Linked DNA regions of Homo sapiens: region 1 is linked to region 2. Evidence: fine-mapped QTL for protein levels in blood plasma. Region 2 holds a variant in brackets. A gene starts in the other region. All regions are shown on their forward strands.

Region 1 (4,382 bases), not on the chromosome of region 2:
TTGTGATTACAGGCATAAGCCACCGCGATGGCCCTCCCACATGCTTTAAATCATCTCTAGATTACTTATAATACTGAGTATAATGTAAATGCTACATGAATAGTTGTTATACCGTATTGTTTAGGAAATAATGACAAGGAAAAAAGTCTGTACGTATTCGTACAGAGAAACCCATCCTAGGCCTACCTACAAGGACCCAGTCCATAGTGGGTTGAACCCACAGCCAGGGAACTCACAGATACAGAGGGGCCAACTGTAATGGGTCTCCGTGAGGGTCTAACTCCGCAAGGGCAGGGACCCTGCTGCTGATTTCACCACTGCAGCTCCACTGCCAGGCAATGGACGGTTGAGCTCCCGTGCAGTGGGCATGGCCCAGGTGACCCTTGACCCTTGCTTGAGTTCTCAGCTTCAGGGTGGTTTTTCCTGGTGGTGGACAGCGCTTCTAAGGAAGATGGGCTGGCTCGAAGGCAGCGGGGGACATCAGGCTTTCTGCTTGATTTCGATTACTCTAATGGTGACCCACTTTGTCTGCTGCACACTGGGCTGTCTTCAAGATGACAGGTTGACAATGACTGCCATTGGGTCATTACTGAGCAAAGAGCCATTAGCACACTGGCTGTGGTTCCAGCACAGTCTGTGCCGGGAGGCAGGTGTCTGTCATCCCAGGTGTGCTGGCCTCATTTGTCTGAAGGAATCTGCCGACCTCAGGAAACCCCAGCACGCCTTCAGGCCACTGCCTTGCTTGTCTGTAGCCTTCCCATGGTCACCGCACTTCCGGGCCAGGGTCCCAGCCAGGGTTTATACCGAGACCCACTCACCCAGACTAAGCGGGAAGCAAGACGGTGGGTGTCATCCCACGTGGAAAAAGAACTTAGGGACCTGGAGGAATCAGGCATGGGCATGTTTATTTTGAATACATGTGTCTAATTATTCAATGGAGCTTTCTTAAATGAATTCAAAATACATGTGAAGATTTGTTTCCAGTTGCTTAATGTCTTTTTAATAAGGAGGCTCTGACCAGATAACCTACCCTGAAATTTCTTTTTCGTTTGTTTTTTGTTTTTTGTTTTTCGAGACGGAGTCTCGCTCTGTCACCCAGGCTGGAGTGCAGTGGCACGATCTAGGCTCACTGCAAGCTCCGCCTCCTGGGTTCACGCCATTCTCCTGCCTCAGCCTCCCAAATAGCTGGGACCACAGGCGCCTGCCACCACTCCCGGCTAATTTTTTGTATTTTTGGTAGAGACGGGGTTTCACCATGTTAGCCAGGATGGTCTCGATCTCCTGACCTTGTGATCCACCCGCCTTGGCCTCCCAAAGTGCTGGGATTACAGGCATGAGCCACCGCACCCGGCCTGAAATTTATTTTTCTTTTTTTCCTTTCTCTTTCCTCACTTTCCTTCCTTCTCTTTTCTTCTTCTCCTTCTCCTCCTCGTCCTCCTCCTTCTTCTTCTTCTTTCTTCTTCTTCCCTTCTCTCTCTCTCTCTCTCTCTCTCCCTCCCTCCCTCCTTCTTTCTTTCTTGACAGAGACTTGCTCTGTTGCCTATGCTGGAGTGCAGGCTTGATCGTGGCTCACTGTAGCCTCAACCTCCTGGGCTCAGGTGATCCTCCCACCTCAGCCTCCTGAGCTGAGTAGCTGGGACTACAGGCACGTGCCATCATGCTTGGCTGATTTTTAAAAAATATTTATTTATTTATTTTTAGTAGAGATGAGGCCTTGCTATGTTGCCCCAGCTGGTCTTGGACTCCAGGGCTCAAGTGATCTATCTACTCACCTCAGCCTCCCAAAATGCTGGGATTACAAGCGTGAGCCACTGCGCCCAGTCTGAAGTTTCTTTGAAAGCAAAAAAGGAAACAAAAAGAGTACATAGGCCCAAATGAAGACAGCTGAAAGTTTAATGTACCTCAAATTCCAGCCCATGACTAAGGGATGGACTTTGAGTCTCTTTTCGAATCCATCTCAAGGATTTAGGTTTAGAGTTTGTGCTCCTTTAAACAGACTAAGAGCCTCTGTGACAAAGTAAATAGAGAAAATAAGTGTAGTCAAGCTCTGGCAGGATTTGGAAGGGGGCCTAACGTGGAAGAAAGGAGAAGGCTGGAATTGACTAAGATGTGCTATGCACTGGGCTGGATTTGTTCTCAGCAGAAAGCAAGAAAGAGCTCTGGGATGGTAGCAGGGCTCCCACTACCACCGGGGGCCAAAGGTTGCAGTATTTCTCAGGTAGCCAAGAGGCACCCATGAGCCCAGCCCCTGCCCACTCCCTGATGTCATCTAGACACAAGGACATGGGGCATGAGAGGACATCATTGTCACTTCTCTGCAGAGTCACAGGAACGTGCCCTCTGCTCCTCCGCCTCTCGGCTGTCCTTCTGCCCACGGCTGGCCCAGACTCTCATGGCGACTCACTGTCTCCCACGCCCCCACTCCCGGCAGGAAACCACTTCAGGGTTTACTGTGGGCTCCGAAATCAGCCTGTGAGTCCTAGTTAGGGTCCCCTGTGCCTGACTCTCCTCTCCCCAGGCTGCAAGAAATAGGGATGACCAGAAGTCAAACTGTGCCCTTGGGAACACCCCACCCCTCACCACTGTCGTGCCAGGAGTCTGTTCCTAAGACCCCTCCCCAAGTCCTGTCTCCTCCTCTTCCTCCCATAAACCACAGCAGACACTCAGCCACCAGGCTGCAGCCCTGCACCTTCTCCAGCAGCCGCTGGCCTTCGCCAGAGTTCTTGAAAGCCCAGTTGTCCTTCCCCAGCCACGTGGAGGCAGACGGATCTCTCCTGGGGGCAGCCTGTAGCTGTCTGTGCAAAGGTTCCCAAGACTAAAGTGTAGAGGACAGGTAAGATGACACTGTCATGATCATCATTCGTCCTGTGCCCTGTGGACATCAACCCACAGATGTGACATCAACCCATCTGATATTGAGCCCAGTGGGTGGGGAGATCCTAACCCAGCTGCTGCTGTTGAGGACTTGGGTGGTGTCTGGCCAGTGGGAGGGGAGGTCAGGCGAGTTTTCAGCAGATGACCCCGTGCTCTTCGGAAGCCCGGAGGTGCCACACTGTACAAGTGTGATGCCTGGGATCCTGTGCTCCCCTGATGCCTGGGAATGGGGTGAAGGAACAGCCTAGGCTTGGGTTCTCTCCTGGGTTGTTTCGGGACTTGGCCCCAGCTCAGGAAGGGTTTGTGGAGGAGCCAAGGAGGGCCTTGTTCCTGTGGGATGTCTTTGCCTTGGGCACAAGGACAGCCTCTTGCTGCTGCTCTGCCCACCGCCCACCCCTTGGCGGCCTCTGGGAGTCTGGGCTGCTCTCCCTCTGGACCTAACCAGTTGCCCAATGGCTGGACCTGCTTAAAGCTCCCTCTTACAACTGGACCAGGCAGCCAGGGGAGGCACTGAGAGGCCGAGCTTCTGAGCTGGTGCCTGTGGATGCTCGACGGTCCCGCAGCTCCCACAATGGGATGGCCAAGCAGACCCTGAGATCCACAGCCCCCCTTTAGTGAAACAGGAGGGAGGTCGCTGGGCACAGGGAGCCGGGAACGCCTGCCCTCCCCGCCATCGACGGCTCCCGAGGCCTGAACCTTCGCTCCAGCCCCAGCACAAGCCGGCCAGGGCGCAGGGCCAAGTGTTGCCCGCCATTCCCCGGGTACCCCATGACCTCCCAGCTGGGGCTGGCTCGGACTGAGGAGTCGTCCCTGCCCGTCACCCTCTGGGGTCTCCAGTGCTGCGGAGCTCAGCTGGCTTTTGCAGCGGTAGGGGCTGGGAGGAGAAGCTGCAGGGAGACCGCAGGCGTGGGACGTTGTGGGGGGTCAGGCTTGCTCTGGGGCTGGGACCCCGGGGGGAGCAGTGGGGTTGACGCCACAGCGATGACTTGGGCCACGGGTCTGGGGGCTCTCCCGCGGGGCGATTGGGCTCTGTCTTTCGGGATTAGGGTCTCTCCCACAGGGTTTGGGGTTCTCTCTGCAGATTTGGGGGAGTCTCTCCCGCGGGATGAGGGGGGGCTCTCCGCCGCACCCGCCTATGATGGCCCAGAGGACCCGAGCTCGGGTCACTCCCGTCGCCCTCGGGGCTCGGCGAGGGTGCAGGAGGCGGGCGCTGAGCCGGTGACGCGACTCCGGGCGGCTCCCGGGTGCGCCGCATATATAGCAGCGGCGGCGGTGGCGGCGGCCACACCGGGCGGCGGACACGTGGAGGGACCCGGCCCGCGCCTTCTGCCCCTGCTGCCGGCCGCGCCATGCGGTGAGCGCCCCAGGCCGCCAGAGCCCACCCGACCCGGCCCGACGCCCGGACCTGCCGCCCAGACCCGCCACCGCACCCGGACCCCGACGCTCCGAACCCGGGCGCAGCCGCAGCTCAAGGTACTACTGGCGCCGGGCCGACCCTGCGCCCCCGG
Region 2 (4,385 bases):
TTCAGGCTGAATGGCCACGGTTCTACCATTGCCTCCCCTTTTCCTCACATCTCTTTGTACCACCTCTCCGTACATTCATCTTGATTCAGTATCACAACAATCATGGGAACTGGGCCGAAAAAGCAGAACTGCATTAGAGGGCAGAGCAAAAGGGAGGAAATTAGGCAGCAAAAGCAAAATATTTCAGTGGATGGATGGATGTGGAAGACAAGAACACACTCAAGTTAATAGGCCTTCCCAATCAAATTTGTGTTTTAATTTGCCTGCTTCCTGTAGTGTCCGAGTCTGATTGTAGGGGGCAGGCAAGAACATAGGCCAGAAGGCCACTGGGAAGCTGTGGTAGCAGTTCTCAGAGTTTGGATCAGAATGATGGTGGAGGAATGCCAGCGGCCAAATATCCCAGGGGACAATACTGCTAGGACTTAGGAAGAGCAGGTGAGAGAGAGAATATCCTGACAGCTATGCAGTCTCTTTTCAGAAAAATGCACATCTAAAAATTATTTTACTAGTACAGGTGACTCTTGTTTATAGACTCCTGAAGCCCATTTTCAGCCCATTGATAGCCCTGGCTCCAGAGAAATCATCATAGACCTCTGGAATAACAGCTTCTTTCATTCAAGTTTCTGAGAGCTACTGGGCAGCAGCCAGGTTGAGATTGTGAGGGTTGCCTGGAGTGGTCCAGTGTTGCCCAGAATGAGTGAAGCCATCAGCTTTAACAGCCTGGTGCCTGAATGGAGCAGTGCCACCCACACAGAGATGGTCCATGGGGACAGCCACAAAAAAGGCTTTTATAACAGTATTTTCCAAAAACAAGAGCAGAGAAGAGATGCAGCTTCAAAGTGGGAAAAGCTAGTGGATATTCAGGGGAAACCTGGTATATTTTCATGCTGCTGAAAAAGACACATCTGAGACTGCACTATTTACAAAAGAAAGAGGTTTAATGAACTCACAGTTCCACGTGGCTGGGGAGGTCTCACAATCATGGTGGAAGGTGAAAGGCAAGTCTCACATGCCGGCACGCAAGAGAAGAGAACTTGTGCAGGGAAACTCCCCTTTATAAAACCATCAGATCTCGTGAAACTTACTCACTATCACAAGAATTGCATGGGAAAGACCCGTCCCCATGATTTAATTACCTCCCACTGGGTCCCTCCCACAACACATGGGAATAGTGGGAGCTACAATTCAAGGTGAGATTTGGGTGGGGACACAGCCAAACCATATCACCTGGGGCAGAGGCAAGGGGAGACAGGTCCTCAATAAGCAAACATCCAGTATAGATGCTGAGAAGTGGGAGGGTATGCAACAGGGAGTGAGGCATATTAGTTCCTGTGATCCTTAGCTCTGATAGTGAGAGTCAGATGGGCTTCTGCTGCAGCTCATGCTAGCCTGTCTGCTGATGACCAGTCATGCAGGTGACTACTGTGAACCTGTGTGGCTGCTCATGATAGGCTGCCCCATACTATGTAGAGCCAGCCAATAAAACTGCACACTGCTTTGTTTCCTATGTTATGAGGACATGTTCGAGCTTGGCCTTCAGGCATTTGGAAACTCCCAAACCCACAAACTGGTAGAGAGGGGGAGTAAACTGAGTCATATTGGACTGGGTCACTGGGACTGATAGAATTGGGAGTGACCTTTTCAGGGCCTGCCCAGGGGAGGTAGCCAGCCACCTTAATCACCGAGTGAGATGGGGTTTAATCTGGGCTGGTAACAGTAGCCAAGTGGTCCGGTTTGATGGCTAAGGGTGGTAAGATCTCTGAGTGGTCATGGCAGCCAGCATCAATGGAAAGTACTATTTTGAATCCAGGGAAGGTGCATTTGGAATGAACCAGTATTACTGACAAATGACTGCGGGTTGAGGGCCAGGATTCAGCTCACTGGAGAGAGAAAGGGGTAGGAAGACACTGGGGATATTTTTAGGGTTTTGGTCCAGCAGGAAATGGAGGACCCATCAGGAACCTGGCTGGACATAGTGATTGGGACGTAGTGTTGGTTGTGAGTGGTGCTGTAGCTCATGTAGGAAGTACACAGCAGGCTCAGGGACTCTTTGGTAATTTTTTTTTTTTTAATCTAGGCTCTGGGCCAGTTACTGAGCAGGGCCCTAGGGTTTGGGAGCTGTGGATGTGTTGCCAGGCTTGCCTCTTATTGGCTGACAAACTCTGCCTGAATGGCCCAGCAGGTAACAGGTCTCCAGTCTTTACAATGGGCATGCCTAAGGCAGTCAGGCTCTGATACTGCTTGGCATATAGTTTCCTGCTGAGATGTGAGGCCGGCCCAAGCCCTGGCAGGCTTAACTGGAACCCCCCATACCCTCCTGGGATCCTGGTCTTCCACCTTCCTCCAGATCCCCTAGGCAGCTGCCTACCAGACTGGGCACTCCCTCTCCAGCTCCAACATCGGGTATCATGGCCCTTGAGAATATGGTGATTTCCAGCCTAAGCCTTGGAACCAGATGACCTGGTGTCAATTCTGGCTCTGATACTTCCT[A/G]CAAGTGTAATCCTGAATGCATTTCTTCACCTTATGAACCCTAGTTTCTTCATCTGTAGGTAAGAAAAATAACTCTAAAGCAAAAGTGGGTAAGAGAATTAGATGAGATCATTCATATATAACACTTGGCATAAGGTCCAGCACATATAACTATTTCCGGATATTGTTATGCTTCATAACTGGTTAACTGGGGTAGGAGCTGTCCCTGGCCTTGCTCTGGTTCCTTTTTGTTATGACTTTAGCCTTTTCCCCACCAATCTGGTATGCTGAGAGTCTAACATATCACCAGGTCTAATGTGCTCCGGGGAAATTCTGTGATTGCATTTGTGTGAAAGGACATTCACATGTACACATTTTTAAGGAAGGGTTGGTGATCAACCCCCAAATCAATTCACTGTGATTCTTCCTCTTTTTATTATTTCCACTCTGAATGGAGAAAAAATAGACCCCTGTCACTTCTGGGAACACAGTGAAATTGACACCTCTCTTTTCAGAAAACCTTGTTAAAGGCTCAGTACATAGGACTGGTGGGAGAAGGTTGTTGAATCATACTACTTGGTTCATAGCAGGATTGAGAATAGGTTTACGAACTGCAAGCATATGAGAAGATATTTATAGGAAGGGTTGTGACATGTTATTCTCCACCATTGCCAATAATAGCACAAGAATAAATTAAATAAGTTATAAGAGGAAAGAGCCAGGTTAGATACAAAGAAGAGAGTATAGAAATAGGCCAAAGAGACCCAGACCAGAAGGTACAAAAATTGGGATTGTCCTAGGGATCCTTGAAGGTACATTTAAGGCATAGAATGCAGTGACATTAACACAGGCAAACACCCATTCTGAGTCCATCTAGTCTGTGTAGTTTCATAGGGAAGTAATAATTATCATGGTTTTTTTTTCTGACAGTGACTTTATTTCTTTCTTCTTTGCCTTGCATTGTGTTCACTTTCACTTCACCATAACCTCTATTCTCTTTTTCACCCTGCTTCTGGATGATGAGAGTTAGTGTCCAATTAAGTTGAAAATTAATACGCTCTCTCCTTTTAAATTGTCATTAAAATATTTTATCCACCACCTCCACCCCAGGCACTGTCCATGGAGTGTTTTTTAAGGCTATTTACAAGTCTCCACATAGAGTGGAAGATAGTAGAGGAATGGGAGATGGGGTCTTGACTTCAGGTTTTATTTGGTTTGCCAGTCTTTTGAGCATGGGCTTCTGTGGGAGGTTTCTATTGCTTCATTTTCCTGTGCTCATTTTTCATTCTTCAAGTTGCAGAACCTTGATGTTGCTTTGGGAATTACCTCCTTCTCTCCCACACACTTGATTCCATTGGAAGCAGTCCTGGGGGTACTGCCAATCAAGGTGGCCCAGCCCTCCCTTGGGCAAGATTGAGTAGCTGACGCAAGTTAGGCCAAGTAGATACTCTCCTCCTGCAATTGGAATCTTAAGCAATATGGCGCAAAAAGACGGAAAACAGCTGGAGATTGTTCTTCATGACAATGGCAATTTGAGGTGACTCATTAAATAGTTTCTGACACCTTTGTACCTGAAGCTACTCTGTTCTTAGCCCTTTCCGAAATCTGCGTGTGTGTGTGTGTGTGTGTGTGTGTGTGTGTGTTTCAAGCTTTTCCTTTTATGATTATGAGAGCCTGTATCCTTTCAATAAGTTTTTCTTTTTCTTAATTTAGTTACAGTTGATTTCTGTGTTGGAAGCAAAGCATCCCCAAAGATACTTTGATATGCTGTCCTTCATGAGACTATTAAAGACTGCAAAACAATTCTCTTAGGTCCTTTAAAAAATGATCTTTTCTTGCTTTAAGGCATTAATAAAATGTTGATTATTGGCATCGAGACAGTTGTAACATTTTGCAGGAGCAACCAGATGGTGACA

Direction of the effects. Positions count from the first base shown, and alleles are read on the strand shown. Strength reflects both the effect of a copy and how common the allele is.
In carriers of allele A in region 2, the plasma level of the protein whose gene starts at base 4,159 in region 1 tends to be higher than with G alone (weak association).

The links. PIP is the chance, under the fine-mapping model, that this variant and not a neighbour inherited with it causes the effect. The UK Biobank Pharma Proteomics Project read protein levels with antibody pairs (Olink). The fine-mapping took linkage between variants from a reference panel, not from the people measured, so its PIPs are less certain.
Region 1: it holds the start of GAL, and the variant in region 2 is fine-mapped to the plasma level of the GAL protein (UK Biobank, PIP above 0.99).

Annotation. Positions count from the first base shown.
Region 1 is chr11:68,680,386-68,684,767 of GRCh38, forward strand. It overlaps GAL (galanin and GMAP prepropeptide), which reads left to right and starts at 4,159. Exons shown (of 6, transcript NM_015973.5): 1 at 4,159-4,347. All of the region lies in intron 2 of LOC107984343 (a long non-coding RNA gene), which reads right to left. RefSeq lists enhancers at 2,878-3,553, 4,230-4,382.
Region 2 is chr2:224,057,914-224,062,298 of GRCh38, forward strand. No RefSeq gene overlaps it. Among named protein-coding and RNA genes, the nearest start is that of SERPINE2, 21 kb to the left of the region's middle. The variant A/G (reference allele first, on the strand shown) is at 2,491.